Linked DNA regions of Homo sapiens: region 1 is linked to region 2. The links come from fine-mapping of genetic effects on gene expression. A gene starts in region 2. The other region holds a variant in brackets. All regions are shown on one strand. Distances are between the middles of the regions.

What was found. PIP is the estimated chance that this variant, and not a neighbour inherited with it, causes the effect.
Region 1: its variant is fine-mapped to the expression of MXRA7 in sigmoid colon (GTEx, PIP above 0.99).

The regions. Positions count from the first base shown.
Region 1 is chr17:76,682,360-76,687,721 of GRCh38, forward strand. It overlaps MXRA7 (matrix remodeling associated 7), which reads right to left. Exons shown (of 4, transcript NM_198530.4): 3 at 2,713-2,806. Among named protein-coding and RNA genes, the nearest start is that of MXRA7, 26 kb to the right of the region's middle. RefSeq lists enhancers at 70-616, 1,710-2,254, 4,237-5,032. The variant A/G (reference allele first, on the strand shown) is at 3,172.
Region 2 is chr17:76,708,586-76,713,947 of GRCh38, forward strand. MXRA7 (matrix remodeling associated 7) reads right to left here and starts at 2,380. Exons shown (of 4, transcript NM_198530.4): 1 at 2,020-2,380. The coding sequence starts at 2,361. It also overlaps a transcript of JMJD6 not described here. RefSeq lists a silencer at 2,402-2,611.

The DNA of each region.
Region 1 (5,362 bases), 26 kb before region 2:
GGGTGGAACCTGACAGGCGGAGAGAGAGCACCCTGCTAGCTGGCCTGTGGTTTTAGTGGTTTGATAACAACAGGCATGTTATTTTTCATACTGATGATTCTAGGGCGGTTCCCTGGACTTGGCTGGGACCAGAACTGTCTCACAGCTGCCAGCGCTCCCCACCCCCATGAGAACCATCGTGCTGAAGATGAAGAGCCAAAGCCAAACTGACCAGCCTCTGCAACCCCAAGCATCACCGTGTGAGGACAGCGTGATGTGGAGCCGCGGAGACCCCACGCAGTGCTGCGAGGGGCAACCACATGCAGGGGGGCAGAGGTGTGGGGGAGCAAGCAGATGCCACCGGCATGCCTAGGAGCCACAGGGAGCATGCGGGCTGGGCAGTGATGGGAATGAACGTGAACTCCAGTCCTGCCCCAAGAAGTCCTCCGGCCCCTCCTTCTCAATTCAGGGCACAAAGTGGTAACTGCAGCATGCAGAGGAGTCGAGGAGTCTTCCCTCGTCCCAGGAGCAGCACCTCGGGCACAGTCTCGGTCCCACAGAACAGCCAAGTGTGGGTTGGTGGTCTAGAGACCTCCAAAGATCCAGTGGGGGAAGGATGGGCAGCAGAGGGTCTACTCTCTGAAAATAAGGGGAAGGGATTTTCCCTCCCCACTGCCAAGGTCCCAGCTCTGGACGTGGGTGGCAGTGGCAGTTTCACCCCCAGCCGGAGGCCTGGTCTTTCTTGTTCTAAGAGGCCCTCCAGATCCATCTGCCTGAGCAGCCTCTGTCCCCAGGGACCTTCAAGGGCTGGCAGTTGTGTCCAGCCCCCTCTAGCCTCTGTCCAGGGACTGCAACCTTTTTCTGCAAACAGCCAGATACTACTTAGATTTGGGGGGCTGTGTGGTCTCTGCTGCAGTGACTCACCTCGGCCACTGCGGCACAAAGAGGCACAGACCACAGGAAAATGGGTGAGTGTTGCTACTACTGCCACGCTGGATTGGCACAGGCAGGTGGGGGATCAGATGTGGCCCGGCCGTTGTCTGCTAACCCTTGCCCTGATCCTAAGAACCTGCCTGTCTCACAGCTTGGGAGCACGGACCGTTCTCAGAGTATCTGCTGTGCACTGTGCAGAAGCTGCCTCATCTTCTCAGGGTGAGACCCAAGGCTGCAGGGTGACGACATCCACATTTCCGAAGCCTGAGGTCCCAGGGTGACAGTTCCCCCAGCCTTGCGAGGGGGCGCTAGCACCCCAACCTGCCGGCCCATTAGGCCCCCTCCAGGAACTCAGGGACTTAACTCCCCTCCAGGAACCTCTGCCCCCAGACGGGGCCTCTTCTGCCAGAGATTCCTCGTGCTTGAGAAGAATGAGAAGGGCTCAGGTGGGAAATGTATTAATCGGTTATGAAGGCGATGGAGGAGGGGAGGTTGAGGCCGCGTCAGTTGTTTGGGGGCACGTTAGCACGCAGTAGAAGGGGAGCACCACTAGTCTAAGAAATCAGTGTCCTTACCAAAAGGATTTGCAAGAATATTTGTGGCTCAGGACCTAAGGAACTTGCTACAGGGAAGTGAGGTCAGAGGTCAGCTCAATCCTGAAATATAAATGCAGCAAACCTGGTCATGCCAAGCGGCAGCATCCTCAGCACCTGAGGACTCGGGGCTCCTGCCAGGGCTCTTCCTCCTGGCTGTGCTTACACTGCCCGCCCCCCACCCACCCAGGGTGAAGAGCTTTCCTGCTGAGGGTCGAGAGCGCTGATGCCAGCAGCGGGAGGGGAGACAGGGCCTGTCACCGGCAGAGCAGCTGTGAGGTTAGAGGGCTGCCCGGCGGGTGGCTTGGCATGCAGCCATGAGAGGGCAGTTGAGTTCTGATTCCAAAATCATAAACCACCCCTCCTGCTCGGACCCTAGACCGCTGGTTTCTGCTGACAAGTAGGGGGTGATTCCCACAAGCTGCTCTGGGTCGCCAGGCTTGGAAAATGGCACAGCTACCACCTAGACTTCTGCTTTAACCAAAGGACTCCAGGCCACGCTGCAGAAGGGCAGCAGTGTGGGTGAGCACCAGGAGCCTGCTGCGCCTGGTGCAAAGGACTGTCCCTCTGCTGAGACCTCCCCAGCTGTCCCACTGTGCCCAGCGCACCCCTTCCCCGCCCAGCAGGATGGTGTGGAGGGAAAAGGTGGCGGGGTGCCCAGTGGCTGTGCAGGGGGTGTCCAAATGGGAAGGGGGAGCCAATTCCAACAACGAGAAGCCATAGCTGCACTGCCCGGAGCTACAAGGCGCTGCTGCAGGCGCCGGCCTGGGAGGCCGCTGAAGGATGAGCACCAAGAATCCGCTGTGTCCCGAAGGAGAAATGGAGAAATCAGCTCTGTTGGGGACTGTGTGTGTGAGTGACAGCCAGGTCTGCTCCAGGCTCTTTCCTGGCATCTCATTTCTTTAGATGGGGGCAGTGGGGTGTGGAGGGGGTGGGGGGGTGCAGTAAATGGGCTCTGTATCCCCCATCACCAGTGGCCTCCTTCTGGTCAGTGCCAGGGAGGGGTGCCAGGGGTGTGCGAGCCTGGCTGACCAGGGCAGGAAAGAACTCCTAAACTGGGAAGGTGGGGCGGTGGTTGGGCAGAGCGTGTAGGAGCCCCACCTCCTTTCTGGGCCCTTCTGCCAAGGGGCAGGAACATGAAGGGCTCAGAGGGGCACCCCCCTCCCCCAAGAGCCCGCCAGGCGCCAGCGAAGGGGCTGCAGCCTACCTCTGCTCCTCCTCCAGCTCCTCTTTGGTCATCATCTTCTTGTACTGGTTTCCCCTCAGCTTCCCGGGGCTGTATTTGAAGGAGAAGCCTTCTCCTGTGGAGGGGGGACCCAGTAAGTGCCAGGAGTGCTGTAGAGGCTGGCCCCACAAACCCCGGCCCCCTTTCCCTAGGTTTAAAAAGAAACACCTCAAGCAGAGGCCACATCTGGCTATCAGAGACATCTCACCCCAGCGCCTATACCCCCTCTCGTTCCATAGCTTTCCCTTAAATCCTACAACGAGACAGCCAGAGAGAAAGCAGTCCTACTCCTAGTCCACAGCTGTCTCCAGATGCCACATCCCTCCCAACATCTGCAGTGCTCTGCCTTGCCCTGGCCCTGCCCAGCAGGTCCTCTCGGCTACTGAGCTCAGAGGCGACAACTCCGGCAAGCAGAGCACAGCTCATCTTGGGACACACACC[A/G]CGCCTGCCTGGGCTTGGGGAGGCTTGTGTCATCCCCCCACCCCCTGTGGCTATTGGAAATCTGAAAACACGCATCCAGGCAGCCCACAGTGGCCAGGCCAGGGATGCGGGATTTGCTGCAGCAGGTTTGACGTGTGTACCGCTGAAGAGGCAGAGCCCGATTTGCCAGTCCCCGAGGGGAGACCCCCCATTGCTGCCTGCAAAAAACGGACAGATCTCGAGGCCTGAAGAGGGCACATGGATGGGTAGGTGGTGGGCACAGAGGAAGCCAGGACCTGTGGCCTGGAGTGGACACAGGCTCCGGGCACATGAGCCACGGTGAGGAGAGAAAAGCTGAGCTTCCAGAGGGAAAAGCCCCATGGGGGAGCAACCTCTTGGTTCCTGAATCCAGCAGGTGTCGGGCAGAGCTGGCTGGCCTCTTATCGACCTCCACTAACTAAAGGACCCAGTGAGGGAGGCATAGAGAGATCCTCAGCTGCTATTCTGGAAGTGCTGCCCTCTCTGTCCCTCCATATCCTGTCCAGCAGCCCGAAAAGCCAGGCCCCTCCCCTCTAGCTTGCAGCCTTCATGCTACCGGATAGGCTGATGTGGACCGATGGGGAGGCGGGGGGGCTCTCAGGGTGAAAGGAAGAAGGTTCTAGATGCGAATTCAGAACCCAAACATCTGGTTGGGTGTGGTGGCTCATGCCTGTAATCCCAGCACCTTGGGAGGCCAAGGCAGGTGGATCACTTGAGGCCAGGAGTTCGAGACCAACCTGGCCAATGTGGCAAAACCCCGTCTCTACTAAAAATACAAAAAATTAGCCGGGCGTGGTGGCAGGCGCCTGTAATCCCAGCTACTCAGGAGGCTGAGGCAGGAGAATCGCTTGAACCCGGGAGGCAGAGGTTGCAGTGAGCCGAGATCGCGCCACTGTACTCCAGCCTGGGCAATAGAGTAAGATTCCAGTATCCCCCTACCCCCCAAAAAAAGAAAACATACAAAATCCTGCCTTGGTCCCAGTCTTAGGTTTCAATTTATGGGGCAAGTCTGATTAGTTTTGTTTTCTGAGCCAGACAGAACAAACGACTTGAAAAGGATTTCGCTCAGTCACATGCAGTGCACCAGGCAGCGCATCCAGTTTTGCTAGACCAGAATTCAACGTGACAGCCTCCGAGGGACGGGGGAGGTTTCTTCCTCCAGTCTCCTGTGAATTCACCTAGTCGCTCAGGGAAGTCATTTTAGCGACACTAATAATTAACCTCTGAGGCTGCCTCGTACTGCAGAGGGGCTGGAGGTGCTCACACATTCTTCCAACAGCTGGAGCCATAAACCTTTCCTTTCCCTGCCTTGCTAGAGATGGCAGGAGGCTAAGATGGCAGGAGGCGCTGGGGGTGGGGGATGTTCAGGAGCAGCGGTGCAGATAAGGGGGGAGGCTGGTGACAGTGCTGGGGGACTGTGCCCTCTGGCAGCTATGCCAGGGAGAGGGGTCTGCGAGCCTCTCTCCTTGTCCTTGCCAAAGGGCCTCCCTCCCGTGTCCCCAAGTCACTAACAGGATCCCTGCATCCCTTCAGCTGTCTCAGGCCACATGGCAGGGACAGATGCCAGGGCCATGGCTGCGGTGAGTCCCCAGTCCCCAAAAGCAGGGAGCAAGGGTCCTTCCTGGTAAGGGACTAATGTCCCCACCTGCAGCCCACCGCCTGCACCCAAGCTTCATTCTCCCCTCCTGCTTCAGGCTGTGCTGATGGAAACCAAGGCACTGCCTCAGGGGAAGCTCTGCACCCCAGCCCAGCCTGCCCGCAGGAGCTGGTTCCTACATTCCTGAAACCTTCTCTTTCCACTGCTCCTGCCAGCAGCCGACTTAACATCACAAAAGCAGACTTGCTTTTTTAAAATTATGAAATATTTCAAACATACAAAAATGCAGAAAGCACTAATCCTCCCTGTGCTTGCCACACAGAGCCAACAAACGCTGACATCTTGCATGTCTGCCTCCGCTTTCTTTTTTAGAGAAATAAGTGGATGGACCCAGCAGAAGCCACTCCATGTTTGGTTCCGCCTCTGTCTGTCCTGGCCGGGTCCGATCTGGCAGTGTCTCCCCTGTTCTCGGTCACTCCCTTTCTCCTCTCAGTCTCATGGCTGGGGCCTGTGGCCAGTCAGCCAGAGCTGCTTAGAAAGCAGGCGTGTGCCCTCCTGGGGCCTTCGTTCTGAAGA
Region 2 (5,362 bases):
TTGTTTTCCTTTCTTTTTTTTCTTGTCACTGACTCGAAGCTCATCAAGACAATTTCTAAGCAGCTTCTTAGGTTAATGCCACCACTGGGAGTGGGTGGGATGACACAATATCTGTGTCCCCACAGCACCTGGCTTAATGTTTGCAGGCAGGAGTTTTGGGGGAGCTTTGGCCAGCTCAGGAAGGCCTGGGGACTTGAACCCAAAGGGGAAGGGCACTGACTTCAATTGAATTCTCCTGTGGGGTGGGTTCTCTCTGGAGGGTGCCTTAGCGGGAGGACAGACACAAGCCTCAAGTCATCCTCACTGGCACCTATGTCATGGGGGCTGCCTGGCACGCGAACCCCCATACTGCCTTGTCCTTCAGAGCACCCATTCAGCTTCAGAGGACGTGCATTCACCCAGACAGTGGCAAATTATGCGAGTGGCCCTATTTAAACACCACTGAACCTATTCCTGTAGGTACCATGTGCTGAGAGCCGAAAGCCTTGTAGAAAGTTCTTTAAGCGCTGTGCCCCACAGGATTGAGCTAAGACAGGGCGCCGCTAAAGGACATTTTGCACTTCAGTCCAGAGCCTGGTGTGGGTGATAAAGGGCCAGCCCTGTAAGGCCAGGACTGACTGAGTGTGCATGACGGCTCCAGAACTGTCTAAAGGCCTCTCCTGCTCCCGCGAGACCTCGATGGAGGCAGGAATCCCAAATATGGGAGCAAACACAACAGATCAGCACATGTCCAAACCGCGCCCCCTCCACCATCACCGCGTGAGGTCTGGAAGCCCACCCCAAGCAAGAACGGCAGGGCCTGCCCCTGCTCCACCCCATTAAATGTGGCTGGTTAGAATCCTCTCTAATGACACAATTAGTCACCCACTTGTCAAGCAAAGCGCCTGCTCAGAGGGGGTCTGGCGCACTTACTCAGCAAAGAGAAATGCCTCTGAGCACAGCCTGGCTGCCTCCTCCTCCCCCGAAGGGCTTCTCTCCAGGGTAAACCATTGTGTCCAGCACAGGACAGAGTGGGCACGCAGACACGCAGGCACGCTGACAATGCGCATCCCGGCTCTCCTCCCTTCCAAGAAAAGGAGCTCAGGGGTAAGAACAAGGGATTACAATCCGACTCGGAGACCCTGGCGGTGGCCTGGACCGGCCAAGCGTGGTGAACTCCAGGGAACATGGGCACACAGTGTAGGGGCTGGGATGAGTGGATGAGGGAAATCCGACTCCTCTCAGATATCCACAGGCAGGACAAGGTGGCCAAGGCCGAGCTGATGGACAGCATGGCGGGAGGCCTGGGGCAGAGGCAGGGAGGGCCGCTTTGGGGTGCTCACTGGTGCTCCAGGAGGGCTTTATCCTGCATCTTCACTCCATCCAGGCCCAGCTTACCTACAACCCGGGGGAGTGGGGGTAGGAGGGTGTTAGATGTGTAGCTTGAAAACGACAATAAAAAGGACTGCTGGGATCGGGTGCCTTTTCTTTCAGTCCCAGCCCACGGGCTTCACAAAACGCCACAGCACTGACTCTGAAATCTGGACTTCAAATTGGCTGAAAAAGAAAAGCCAGCTTTCCTCCCTCGCCCCCCGAAAGTCCTACTTTTTAAACATCAAGATAACTCTCATGGCAGGCCTGGAAATAAGCCACAGGCACGTGGATTTGGGAACCGGTGGGCGGGAGGGGTCAGAAGTGGGTGAGGAGCAAAATTCCAAGCCCTGGTCCCGAGGCCTGGGAGCCAGCAGCTGCGGAGCACGCCCTGGGCTGGGAGAGGCCGAGGGGAGGGGAGAGCAAAACACCTCCAAACAAACTCCTTCGGGCTCGCCCCTCGCCACACTTTCTGGGGGAGGGCGGCGAGTTTGCGGGGCTGCGGCTTAGCATGGCGGGACCTGCATTTCCTGCGGGCCGCGGGTTCTGCGCTTCCTGGGGGCAGCCTGGGCTGGAGGCCGCGGCCCCGCTCCCTGGCTCGGCGGGGAACGGCAGCGGCAGCCGGAGCCCCGGGGGTGGGGAGGGGGCCGCGAGGGCCCCGGTGCGTACCTGCCTCGCCTCCACCGCCTGCTCCTCCGCCTCCGCTGGCGCCGCCGCGGGATCCCCTGGCCCTTCGGGCTCCCCCGGTCCCGCAGGCTCCCCGAGCTCCCCCAGCCCCGCGGGCTCTCCAGGCTCCTCCGGCCCCGCGGGCGAGGCCGCCGGCTCGGGGGCGCAGGGGCGGGACGGCGCCGGGGCCCCGGTGGCCTCGGCCGGGGGCGCGGGTTCCGGGGGCGCGCGGGCAGGCTCCGGGCTCGCGGCCGCCCCACGCCGCACCAGTAGCCAGGCGAGCAGAAGGGCCAGCGCGGTGGCCAGCGCAGGCAGCGCGGCCAGTAGCTCGGCCGGCGCCTCCATCGCGCCGCGGCCGCCGAGTGCGGGCCAGCTGGGACCCCGAGGGAGCCCGCCGCGCCCCGTCGCCGCGCCCGGTCGCCGCGCCCCGCCTCGGGGCGGAGCCCCCATCGCCGCGCCCCGCCCCCGCCCCCTCCGGCCCCGGGAGGGTGACGCACAGGCTGCGGGCGGGGGTGTTGAGGGGGCAGAGCCCTGACCACCTGGGAGGCACAGGAGGGCCAACCCCTGCCCGGCCTGGGCAGCCTTGACGCTTTGGGGCACAATTTAGCTCAGGTTCAATTTGAAATACTGTATGAGGTGCCCTTAGGTTGTCATCTTTGGCCTTAGTACGGCGGTTCGTCTTAGAGCATTTTGGAAATGTGGGAATGCAGAGAGACAAGCAAACCCGGGAAGCTTCATGGAAACGGCAGCCTGGATTGGCTTGTAAAGCAATCATAATGCCGGATTACGTTCAGCCACTGCCGTTTTTATAGGCATGTCAGGAGTTGCTTTTAATCCTCAGGGTTGCCTTAATGCACTTTCACAGAGGACATCTCCAGATCCCGGCCAGTGAATGCTCCCTTCGGAGCTGAGGCCAGCAGCCTTCAACACAGGCCTCCCTGTTAACAGTAACATGGCTCCCCCGCCCCTAGACCTGAAATTCAGCTGCAGGTCCTTGGTCAACGCTATTCCTCTTACCAGACTTTCTTCTTTGCACAATTCCAGAATGCATGCAGGGTGGGAGGGTACAATGAAGGAAATGAAGGCTATTGTTTTTGTTTCTCCAGATCCTCCCAGGCCTCTGTTGCTGAACAGTGGATTTTGAGATAAACACGTTGTAACCAAAAACATACTTTCCTACCACTCCCCACCCACTCTTTAGTTATTTTAAATAAACACAGGACGGGCATGTCAGGTATCACGCCAAACATAAGGCCTAATGTTAAAAAAAACACGGTTCCAGTTTTTGCTGAGGATGCCTTTAATACTTTTTTGGGAATATTACAGTGCCTGAGCTGATCTGTGATATAAACCAGATATTAGATGGAGTGCTTCTTTTTAAATGAAGATACACAAACGAGACCCCTCAGCAACAGGGAGAGCTGAATTCTGCTGCACTGCACGATATTAAGCGGGCCATGCACTTCCTTTTAGTGGTGGTTGATGAAAAGAGCCTATAAACTATAAAATGTGAAATAGGCTTTATCTACGGGCGACTAGCTTTTAACCACTGTGGAAGTTTCAGCCAGTGTATGGGCCTATTTTTTTTCTTTTGAGATGGAGTCTTATTCTGTTGCCCAGGCTGGAGTGCAGTGGCGCAATCGCGGCTCACTGCAACCTCCACCTCCCGGGTTCAAGCGAAACTCCCACCTCAGCCTCCTGAGTAGCTGGGATTACAGGCGCCCACCACCATGCCCGGCTAATTTTTTTCTGTTTTTAGTAGACAGGGTTTCACCGTGTTGGCCAGACTGGTCTTGAACTCCTGACCTCAGGCAATCTGCCTGCCTCAGCCTCCCAAAGTGTTGGGATTACAGGCGTGAGCCTCCGCGCCCAGCCAATTTTTTTTTTTTTTTTTTAAAGAGACAGGGTCTTTCTTTCTTTTTTTTTTTTTAAAGAGACAGGGTCTCACTATGTTGCCCAGGCTGGAGTGCAGTGGCTATTCACAGGCATGATCATAGCTTTCTGCAGCCTCGACATCCTGGGCTCAAGTGATCCTCCTGCCTTAGCCTCTTGGGCAGCTGGGATTACAGGTGTGCATCAATGCTCCTGGCCCAGGGCCTTAATTTTGTGCTCCATCCCATTGTTTTAAAGTGTAAATACATTTTTTTAAAGTCCTGTTCTGCTGACAAAGTACATTGTTGACTTTCAAATGAGTAAGAAAGAAAATAAGGACAAAACAATGCCAAAAACACAACTCCAAATCATGTTGCTTTATTTAAAATGATGAACAAGTTTCACCCAAGTGAAAGTTTAAAATACCAACCCAATAGCAGATCCACAGGCTTTCATGGCAGACCCCATGGCTAGACGGACGCAGAACTAGGAGACTGCTCAGTGTTCTGACAACTCCAGGAGGCACGAGTGTGCAGAAGACAGTCCCAGTTCTTCTGTAGCATCCAGTCACTTTGGAGACAGCTGGCCAGGGCTAGCTCTCCTCCCAGGAGGTTCACTGGGGCTTAGATGACATTTCTTTTTTTTTAAAGACAGAGTCTCGGTCTGTCACCCAGGCTGGAGTGGCTTGATCTCAGCTCACTGCAACCTCTGCCTCCTGGGTTCAAGTGATTCTCCTGCCTGAGTTGACCAAGTAGCTGGGACTACAGGCATGTGCCACCACACCTGGCTAATTTTTGTATTTTTAGTAGAGACGGGGTTTCACCGTGTTGGCCAGGCTGGTCTTGAACTCCTGACCTCAAGTGATCCACCTGCCATGGCCTCCCAAAGTGCTGGGATTACAGGGGTGAGCTACGGCGCCTGGCCGAAATTTCTGAACAATGAGACAAAGTTGAGAGCCACCGCCTGGGGGTGCAAGCTCACCTAGTTTTGCTGCATAGGATGTCACATCTTGACACAAGCTAGTGGGAGGGGAGTGTGGAAGAAGCCGCCAGACTCCACTTCAAATCTACCAGCAATACCAGTACACACATCAAAAACAACTTACTCGTGGAAATACTACAGACAATCTAAAGAACCTACAGCTGGGGCATCCTTATACGCCTTCCTCCTACACAGCATTTTTTACATTTACTGCAAAAATTTTGTTCCATCCTATACTCGTCTAAAGTCCTAAATCCAAGGCTCAGTCTCTAGTAAGCTTATAAAGCATTTGCACCAGCAACCTTCCCACAGATCCTTAGTTTTGCTACTTTATGAAGAAGCTGTTACTACCTTAAGTATACATTGGTGTTAATTATGCTCTTTCATGTAGATCCGTTACACCTGCATTTAAGAAGGTCTGCACTTTCTTCTACCTGCCCTCACCAGCGGCCCTGTGAACAGCCGCAACAGCCGCACATTCACTGTCCATTAA